Linked DNA regions of Homo sapiens: region 2 is linked to region 1. Evidence: fine-mapped expression QTL. A gene starts in region 1. The other region holds a variant in brackets. All regions are shown on one strand. Distances are from middle to middle.

The links.
Region 2: its variant is fine-mapped to the expression of KLHL9 in cerebellar hemisphere (GTEx, PIP 0.96).

What each region holds. Positions count from the first base shown.
Region 1 is chr9:21,332,511-21,337,843 of GRCh38, forward strand. It overlaps KLHL9 (kelch like family member 9), which reads right to left and starts at 2,894. Exons shown (of 1, transcript NM_018847.4): 1 at 1-2,894. The coding sequence starts at 2,349. The coding sequence ends at 496. It overlaps LOC107987053 (a long non-coding RNA gene), which reads left to right. Exons shown (of 3, transcript XR_001746634.2): 3 at 4,111-4,791. RefSeq lists enhancers at 2,324-2,373, 2,564-2,873 and a silencer at 2,914-3,083.
Region 2 is chr9:21,273,289-21,278,680 of GRCh38, forward strand. All of the region lies in intron 2 of LOC107987053 (a long non-coding RNA gene), which reads left to right. It also overlaps the pseudogene IFNA22P. Among named protein-coding and RNA genes, the nearest start is that of IFNA5, 29 kb to the right of the region's middle. The variant A/G (reference allele first, on the strand shown) is at 2,616.

The DNA.
Region 1 (5,333 bases):
ATATTTTTATTATTTCTGTCTACGTAAGAAACTTCAAATATTCTGAATGCAACCACACAATCGAGTAAGTTGACAGACATGACAAAAACTACGAAAAGAGGGAGGTAACTAGTATTAATACTTGGCAACCTTTCGTTATTTTTAGTTTAGAGCGGCCTCCCTCTGACATTTTGGAGTCAAAGATGAAAACTCAACTTTGAAGCATAATGGACATAATTACACATTTACCACAGTCATCTACAATTTTATATAACATCACAAAAAGACATCTAAACATTTTTCTACGTCTTTTTTTCATTTGTTAAAACAGCTATGTTAAATACATTTTCAGAATGCATTTGTTAGCCACTTGATAAACATACTAAAAGCCATACAAGACGAATAACATCAGTTACCTTTATATCTAATAACTGTACCAATCACTGTAAGAAGATACAACTGAAGGGGAAGTATTAGATCACCCATGACGTACTGCAAAGGTGTTACACCTTAGACCTAAGAATGATCTGAAGGTGCTGAAAGAGGTGATTCTCTAGAAGGTGACCCAGGGTTTTCTTCAGGTGGAAAAACTGTGAGTGTACAGGCTCGAATGCCACCAAGTGACTCTGGAAGATCAAAAACTTTATGCCACTCATCTTTTTCTGGGTCATATTTCTGGACAATTTCTACCATACAACGATTATTCCAAGAATATCCACCAACAACATAGATTTTATTTTCAAAGACGGCAACTCCAACATCACTTTGGCCTCTTAACATGGCGGCAATTGGGGTCCACTGGTCAAGGGTTGGTGAATAGTATTCACAGCTTAGAACATCATCATAATCACTTGTTCCTCTGAAGTGATTGCCACCAATGACATAGAGCTTATCTCCAACTGTACACATGCAATGCAGACCTCTGACTGTAGTCATTGGAGCCTTTTGCATCCATTTATCTGTATCTGGGTCAAAACACATGAGCTCATTTTGGAAAGTGTCATGGGTAATTCCTCCTGAAATATACATTAAGCCTCCATATACTGTTCCAGCATGACCATAGTGGGGTTCACTCATTTTTGCAACATAGCTCCACTCATTCATTCTTGGGTTGTAACATTCTACTGTGGCCAGTTCACCAGCTGCACTGCGCCCACCAACTGCATACAAATGTCCTTTGAGGGCACTCAAGTGAAAGAATGTGCGCTTTTCATTTAATGATGCAACCTGCATCCATTTATTATACCGAGGATCAAATCTGAAAACTGTATCAACAGCAGTTTTTCCTTTTGTATCATAATTACTCTGACCACCAACTACATAAAGAAAGTTTCCAATGACAGCAATACCATGCTGGTAACGGGGAGCATCCATTGGGGCTAAAGATCTCCATTCTTGTGCCCTTTCATCATACATCCGTAATTCTTTACTGACAACCAGCTGCTGCCTCAAAACTCCTCCTAATGTAACCAAGTGAGTGGAGTCAGATCGAATGGCAGTTCTATCTGACTGCATCACTGGCTGCATATATGGCATCATTTGGTAATTGCTAGCTTCCAAAAGCAAATTCACGCAGGTATTGTCTGTTCTCATGAAATCTACTGTCTGCACGTAATTGATGAGATCCTGTGGTGTCATCAGTGGAAATCGAATATTCTTCATTAACTTTGCAGCATAATCCATCCGAGGGTCTTCCAACCTTAGCCAGCGACAGGCTGCCTTAAAGAGTTCAAGTTCGGTACAGTGCTTAAGACTATTACTGGAAAGCACAAATGCAAGTCGTTCAAAAGGGAGTTTTAGAAACTCCCCAGTACTCAATAAAGCAGGAAAGTTCTTCAGGATGAAATTATTAACATATTTATCCACTTCTATAAGATTGTAGGTGTTAGCAATTCGTCCAACCTCAACACAGTTATCCAAAGAGACTCCTGATATAAGAAATACTTTACAGAAATCCAAAACGGGTAATATTTGTAAAAAGCTAGCAGCTTCAAGTGTGTCCTGAAGATTGTCCATATTAAGAGAAAGTTTTGCAGTATAAATAAAATCAATGATTTTCTTCAGACCAACCTTGTTCACCCCATGAAGCTTAATGCACATCAAATCTTGTTCTTTCATTCCACCTGTGAACATGGCTTTGAAATAATCACTAGCAGACGCCATCATAGCTCTGTGAACAGGGAAGATTTCATCTCCATCACCTGGTACCAGGGTCACATCACAAAGCAATCCTTCTATTCTAAGCTGATCAAAGCCTTGCAATACCACCGAACTGTGAGTATTGCTGGTAAAAAAGCGTGTGGTTCCTGCCTTACAAGGCTGCAAATGGGCAGAGACGCCCATTTCGCCGTTACCAAGGGACACTTTCATGTGAAAGCTTTCCTCTTGCACAGAGATGCAAGCCGGATAAAGAAGTTATAACCGGAATGTTTTACAGGTAACGAGGTGTCCAGAAAGAACAGAAAGCTCGTTTCCTTATCAAGGGAAGGCAGTCACTGCGGCACCCCTCGGGCCACGCCAGTCAGTCATCCACTGAAAATCACCCTGTAGCAGGACCACAAAGGGCTGTGGACCTCAAATCTGATTATTAGACAGATGATTCATCACCTGAAGGCGGTTAAATGACCTGGTTCACCTCGTCCGGCCTGCGCTGCCGCTCCTTCAGCAGTTCCGCTTCGGGCAAGGAAGAGGCGCCGCCACGTACTGTGGCTCCACGGCCCGCTCGGCGGCGGGTCCGGACACCTCAGCGAACGGCCCGCTGCGCCCTCCGCTGTACCTAGAGTGTCGCAGCGGCCACCGGCCTGTCTTTGAGCAAGGGCCGGGAACACAGGCCTGGGCCTGGGCTTGGGCCTAGAATACCGGCCTAGCCCCAACACCGAGCCGCTCCTTCCGGAAAAGCCTAGTCCCAGGATACCACGGGGTGGGAGCGGCCTTAGCGGCTACTGCGGCTGCGCGGCCTCCAGACCTCGTCAGTCAGCGGGAGGGTGGGGGTGGGGAAGGGGGAGGAAGTACCCGGGAGGCGGGAGGGCGAGGGTTGGGGAAGCGGAGCTGTGTGGGGTGGGCGCCAGCCCGGCCTCTTAGAGCTGCCTTGTATGTGGGACCAAATAGGACAGAATGTGTGCAAGCAAGTGTGTTATGCTGCACGTTTGATATAAGTTTTTCGCATATCTGAGCTCTTACGTTCCCCAAATGCATAATTTTTCAAAGCTTTACGCTTCCTAGCTTCTGTTTTTTTGAATAACAGTGAAATGCGGCATTTGTATAAATTGAGAGGAAACCTGGATGCTTAATTTTTTTTTTCCTCTACAAAACAATAATTGTTATCCCACATTATGTAGTAGATACTTCAGTTACAATTTTGGTTCATATTTTCAAATTTGTTACAATTTCAAACGCAAAATATTTGTCTTTACTAGATTGTTACTTTATTATGTAAATGATATATTCTAAATTTTTGGCTTGAAATGCCTTTGTTTTCCACAATTTTAAAAATGGCTACATAATTTTCCAATAACTATACATACTATAGTTTCCTTTGCCCATTGGTTTGTTCCTGAATGTGTACCTTCTTATCCTCCATTGTTTTATAGACTCGGTAGTAAACTTATACAATCTGGTAGCAAAATTTTAGCCCTGTTATGGATAATATTTAGTAAAATACTGATCCAAGACAATATTTCCAAAATATTATCACCAACAATGTTTGTGTCTTTCCCTTCTTCTGACTTTTCCCTTTGTGAGTATTTTATTAACTTGCATTTCTTTAATTAGTGGTAAATTTAAATTTTGACATACAAATAAATGTATACTTTGACACAATTTCTTCCATTTTCCAAATTTTGAAGTTTCTGTCTTTTAAATCCTTCTAGTTCTTTATGCATATGCAAAGTAAGAATGTAGTCATGTTTTTCTTACACTCGCCTCGTTTTTATGTAAAAGATAGCATACCATGTACACTGTTCTGCATCTTTTTTTTTCACTTCAAGATCTTCCTGAATTAGTGTAGAGGGCTTATTTATATTTTTAAACAATTCTGTTGTTGCCTTCTGAGTTGTTACATCATAAGTTATTTAACCAGTGCCCTGTTGATGGGCAGTTCATCTGTTTTGAATGTTTTCTATTGTTTCCAAGGGATGGCAGCAAAATTCAGAAGGCTTAGACTACCACTGTCCTCCACAAGGTGCTCCAGCAGATTGTCACCTTATTCAACACAAGAGGTTGGTTGGAATGAAACTGGCCTGGAGAAATTATTCACTGAATTTTTATCAGCATTGGGAAGTCCTGGAGCCCTGCTTGTTGAATGAGTTAGGGGTGGAAGGGCTCTCTCAGGCCATGACAACTCCCTAATGCTGTGAAGAGCTACTTCCAAGGAATCAGTCTCTATCTGGAAAAGAAAGAAGAGAGCCTCTGTACATGGGAAGTTGGAGCAAGAAATCATGAGATCCTTCTTTTTTTCATCAAACTTGCAAGTAAGATTAATAGCTTAGGAACAGACTTGTGTCTTCATGAAATGATTACTATAGACACTCTTCATTATATTCCCATATGTTTAGTTATTTTAAAAGACTATCTTTTCTGCCTGCATAATGAAATGATTGAATCAAATTTGTCACAATACTTGTTGGTAATGTCAAGCAACTGTATGATAAAGCATCCAGTTCTTAGGGGCATTAGCTCACCATGGATGATATTATTAATTTACCCATGTACTTAATTATTGATTCTACTACATTTATTGTATTCAGTATTTTTGCTTGTATGAAATGTTCACTTTTAACACTGTGCTAATTACATTAAAAAGTGTTCACTTTATGTATATTTTGTTTGTTTGTTTTGTTTTGTTTTGTTTTGACGGAGTCTCGCTCTGTCACCCAGGCTGGAGTACAGTGGTGCGATCTCGGCTCACTGCAACCTCCGCCTCCCAGGGTCAAGCAATTCTCCTGCCTTAGCGTCCCGAGTAGCTGGGACTACAGGTGCGCGCCACCATGCCCAGCTAATTTTTTGTATTTTTAGTAGAGATAGAGTTTCACCATGCTGGCCAGTCTGCTCTCAAACTCCTGACCTTGTGATCCGCCTGCCTCAGCCTCCCAAAGTGCTGGGATTACAGGCGTGAGCCACCATGCCTGGCCCCTCACTTTATATTTTGAAAATTATTCTCTTTATTATTTCGAGTTTTACTTTCAGATCATTTTGCATTTGTTTATTTAAAAAAAACAAACACAAGGTCTTGCTCTGTCACTAAGCTGGAGTGCAGTGGCAGGTTCATAGCTCACTACAGCCTCAAACTCCTAGCCTCAACAATCCTCCCACCTCAGCCTCCCACACTGCTGGGATTACTGGCATGAGCCACCATA
Region 2 (5,392 bases), 59 kb before region 1:
GTTCAATCTGATGGTAGTTTCTTTTGCTGTGCAGAAGCTCTTTAGTTTAATTAGATCCCATTTGTCAATTTTGACTTTTGTTGCCATTGCTTTTGGTGTTGTAGTCATGAAGTCCTTGCCCATGCCTATGTCCTGTATGGTATTGCCTAGGTTTTCTTCTGGGGTTTTTATGGTTTTAGGTCTAACATTTAAGTCTTTAATTCATCTTGAATTAATTTTTGTTCTGCCCTCTCTTACCACTCCTATTCAACATAATGTTGGAAGTTCTGGCCAGGGAAATCAGGCAGGAGAAAGAAATAAAGGGTATTCAATTAGGAAAAGAGGAAGTCAAATCGTCTCTGTTTGCAGAAGACATGATTGCATATTTAGAAAACCCAAACACTTCAGCCCAAAATCTCCTTAAGCTGATAAGCAACTTAAGCAGTCTCAGGATACAAAATCAATGTGCAAAAATCACAAGCATTCCTGTACACCAGTAACAGACAGAGAGCCAAATCATGAGTGAACTCCCATTCACAATTGCTTCAAAGAGAATAAAATACCTAGGAATCCAACTTACAAGGGATGTGAAGCACCTCTTCAAGGAGAACTGCAAACCACTGCTTAATGAAATAAAAGAGGATACAAACAAATGGAAGAACATTCCATGCTCATGGGTAGGAAGAATCAATATCGTGAAAATGGCCATACTGCCCAAGGTAATTTATAGATTCAATGCCATCCCCATCAAGCTACTGATGACTTTCTTCACATAATTGGAAAAAACTACTTTAAAGTTCATATGGAACCAGAAAAGAGCCCGCATTGCCAAGCCAATCCTAAGTCAAAAGAACAAAGCTGGAGGCATCACGCTACCTGACTTCAAACTATACTTCAAGGCTACAGTAACCAAAACAGCATGGTACTGGTACCAAAATAGAGATATAGACCAATGGAACAGAACAGAGCCCTCAGAAATAATACCACACATCTACAACCATCTGATCTTTGACAAACCTGACGAAAACAAGAAATGGAGAAAGGATTCCCTGTTTAATAAATGGTGCTAGGAAAACTGGCTAGCCATATGTAGAAAGCTGAAATGGGATTCAACTTCTTCCTAGTTTAGTCTTGGGAGGGTGTGTGTGTCCAGGAATTTATCCATTTCTTCTAGATTTTCTAGTTTATTTGCACAGAGGTGTTTATAGTATTCTCTGATGGTAGTTTGTATTTCTGTGGGATCAGTGATGATATCCTCTTTATCATTTTTTATTGTGTCTATTTGATTCTTCTCTCTTTTCTTCTTTGTTAGTCTGGCCAGCGGTCTATCTATTTTGTTAATCTGTCCAAAAAACCAGCTCCTGGATTTACTGATTCTTTGAAGGGTTTTTCGTGTCTCTATCTCCTTCAGTTACACTCTGATCTTAGTTATTTGTTGTTTTCTGCTAGCATTTGAATTTGTTTGCTCCTGTTTCTCTAGTTCTTTTAATTGTGATGTTAGGGTGTCGATTTTAGATCCTTCCTGCTTTCTCCTGTGGGCATTTAGTGCTATAAATTTTCCTCTAAACACTGTTTTAGCCGTGTTTCAGAGATTCTGGTACACTGTGTCTTTGTTCTAATTGGTTTCAAAGAACTTATGTACTTCTGCCTTAATTTCATTATTTATCCAGTAGCCATTCAGGAGCAGGTTGTTCAGTTTCCATGTAGTTGTGGGGTTTTGAGTGAGTTTCTTAATCCCGAGTTCTAACTTGATTGCATTGTGGTCTGAGAGACTGTTTGTTTTGATTTCCATTCTTTTGCGTTTACTGAGGAGTGTTTTATTTCCAATTATGTGGTCAATTTTAGAATAAGTGTGACGTGATGCTGAGAAGAATGTGTATTCTGTTAATTTGGGGTGGAAAGTTCTGCAGATGTCTATTAGGTCTGCTTGGTCCAGAGCTGAGTTCAAGTCCTGAATATCCTTGTTAATTTTCTGTCTTGTTGATCTGTCTAATATTGACAGTGGGGTGTTAAATTCTCCCACTATTATTGTGTGGGAGTCTAAACCTCTTTGTAGGTCTCTAAGAACTTGCTTTATGAATCTGGGTGCTCCAGTATTGGGTGCATATATAGTTAGAATAGTTAGCTCTTCTTGTTGCATTGATCCCTTTAACATTATGTAAAGCCCTTCTTTGTCTTCTTTTTCTTTTTGATCTTTGTTGGTTTAAAGTCTGTTTTATCAGAGACCAGAATTGCAACCCCAGCTTTTTTTTTTTTTTTTTTTTTTTTTTTGCTTTCCATTTGCTTGGTAAATATTCCTCCATCCCTTTATTTTGAGTTTATGTGTCTTTGCATGTGAGATGGGTCTCCTGAATACAGCACACCGATGGGTCTTGACTCTATCCAATTTGCCAGTCTGTGTCTTTTAATTGGGGCATTTTTCCCATTTACATTTAAGGTTAATATTGTTATGTGTGCATTTGATCCTGTCATAATGATGCTAGCTGGTTATTTTGCCCATTAGTTGATGCAGTTTCTTCATAGTTTCAATGGTCTTCACAATTTGATATGTTTTTGTAGTGACTGGTACTGGTTTTTCCTTTTCATATTTAGTGCTTCCTTCAGGAGCTCTTGTAGGGCAGGCCTAGTGGTGACAA[A/G]ATCTCTCAGCATTTGCTTTTCTGTAATGAATTTTATTTCTCCTTTGCTTATGAAGCTTAGATTGACTGAATATGAAATTCTGGGTTGAAAATTCTTTTAAGAATGTTGAATATTGGGCCCCACTCTTTACTGGCTTGTAGAGTTTCTGCAGAGAGATGCACTGTTGATCTGATGGGCTTCTCTTTTTGGGTAATCCGACCTTTCTCTCTGGCTGCCCTCAACATTTTTTCCTTCATTTCAGCCTTGGTGAATCTGACGATTATGTGTATTGAGTTTGCTTTTCTCAAGGAGTACCTTTGTGGTGTTCTCTGTGTTTCCTGAATTTGAATGTTGACCTGTCTTGCCAGGTTGGGGAAGTTCTCCTGGGTAATATCCTGAAGAGTGTTTCCCAACTTGGTTCCATTCTCCCCTTCACTTTTAGGTACACGAATCAAACGTACGTTTGGTCTTTTCACGTAGTCCCATATTTCTTAGAGTCTGTTCATTTCTTTTCATTCTTTTTTCTCTAATCTTGCCTTCACACTTTATTTCATTAAGTTGATCTTCAATCTCTGATATCGTTTCTTCCACTTGATTGATTTGGCTATTGATACTTGTGACCAATCTTTTTTTGTTTTCTTAAAGCGTTGAGAAAGCGATTCTTTCATCCAGTTTTCCATTTTATTTTATGAAGGAAGTTTGTCAGGTTTTACTGACAATTAACATAGTACTAATCAAAATTATAATTATTGCAACTTTATATGTTATAATTTGATATTATAAAATATTAAGTATATTAACAGCTTTTCAATGCATGAAATCAATCTGCAGACATATATATTTTCAAACGGATAAACCATGCAGGTAAAATGAAATGTGATCCACTTTTTTTTTCATGTCTAACCTTATTTCTTTCCTTTATCTTAAAGGGAAACCTCTCACAACTATTTCTTATCTATTTTGTCACAGATTTCCCTTCTTTGATTCATGCTTCCACCTACTGCAATACGGTTTATAGTGATTAATTCTACCAATGCAGCTCTCACTAAGATCTCCACTGCCATTTATTTTTCTGATGTAGTGGACAGTTTTAATCCATATTTCCCCCAAGTCTATTGATTCTTCTTCTAAATACATTTATTTTCAAGACACACATTTATCACCATTAAGTCTTTCCTTCACTAATGTACAGTTTTCCACCCTTGCTTCCTTTGTGTCTCTTATATCCCCTCTCTTTAAAGGTGGAAGGTCCTCAGAATCAATTTTAGGTTCTTTTTTCCTTTACTTTTCTTTTTCCTCTCCACATGACTGCCTCTATTTTTGGGCTTTCCATTGCCAGTTATGAACCTTCAGGCATTGTATTTCTTGAAAATTGCAAATTCATATATCTGACTGGAAATACACATTTGCAATTGTATGTTTAGAAGTCAATTTATTGAGGATATTGCTTCTTTTATTTTTATTTCTGGAATGCCTAAATCCATCCTCTTCTATGAGAAATTCATTGTTTTTTTTTTCCTATCTCACATTATAGCATTTAACATAACTGATATCAATTGAGAACGATTATTGTTTATAAGTTTCTTTCCTCACAAAAATCAAAGGTACATGAGAACAGGAAATGTATTTGTTTTTTCAATTTTATATCCTGAAGGCAACATACAACATACAATCTGGTATAGAAAAATCTATTTTGACTTATAACCAATAATAGGTAACTGAATCGTATAATCTATTTTTTAATCAGGTTAAATAATCAGGCTTGGAGTTTCATTTTAAAGAATAAACAAATACAAGGAGTTTTCCATAGTAAAAATTTAATGAAAAAAGCAAAGTAATATATTGACTAAATATAAAGAACATGTATTGTTATATTAACCACAAAGTAAAAATACATGATACATGAAAAGAAGATTTTAAATAGTATAAATAGTTAAATAATTATTTAGACAAATAGATAAACAGATCCATCAGCATGATCATCCGTAAGGAACTAGTGCCTGTACAGCTGAACATGATGCTGCTTAACATTCCTGAAAACATTTTAAAATTTTGATTCAACTCATGTCATGGATATAGCAAAAATGAGAAATGGCAGAATTCATGAACGTGTGAGATGATGTATTAATCATGGAAATGTTTCTCATTTCCATGTTGAACCAGTTTTCATTCCTTCCTCCTTAATCTTTCCTGCAAGTTCGTTCATAAAGAGAAGGATCTCATGATTTCTGCTCTGACAGCCTCCCAGGAACAAGGGCTATACTTCTTCTTTGTCAGATAAAGAGTGATTCTTTGAAAGTATTTTCTCACAGCCAGGATGGAGTCCACATTCCTCAGGGGAGTCTCTTCCACTCCAACCTTCTACATCACACAGGCTTCCAGGTCATTCAGCTGCTGGTAAAGTTCAGTGTAGAATTTGTCTAAAAGGGTCGCATCCCAAGTATCAGATGAGTCCTTTGTGCTGAAGAGGTTGAAGGTCTGCTGCATCATCTCATGGAAAAGGAAGATAGCTTGAACCTTCTGGAAGTGGTTGCCATGAAACACCTGATGATGGAAAATCAAAGTCATGTCTGTCCTTCAAGTAAGAAAAAGGAGAGATTCTCCTCATTTGTGTCAGGAGTATGAAGGCCCTCCTGTTACCCACGCTGTGGGCCTGAGGCAGATCACAGCCCAGAGGCAGATGGACTTGCAGCTGAGCACCATCATAGCCATCAGTAAACTAAAGGGCAAGTCCATTGGGGATGTTTCAGATGCTACTGGGCTGGCTGAGAGAGTGACTCTGAACTCTGGATTTTAG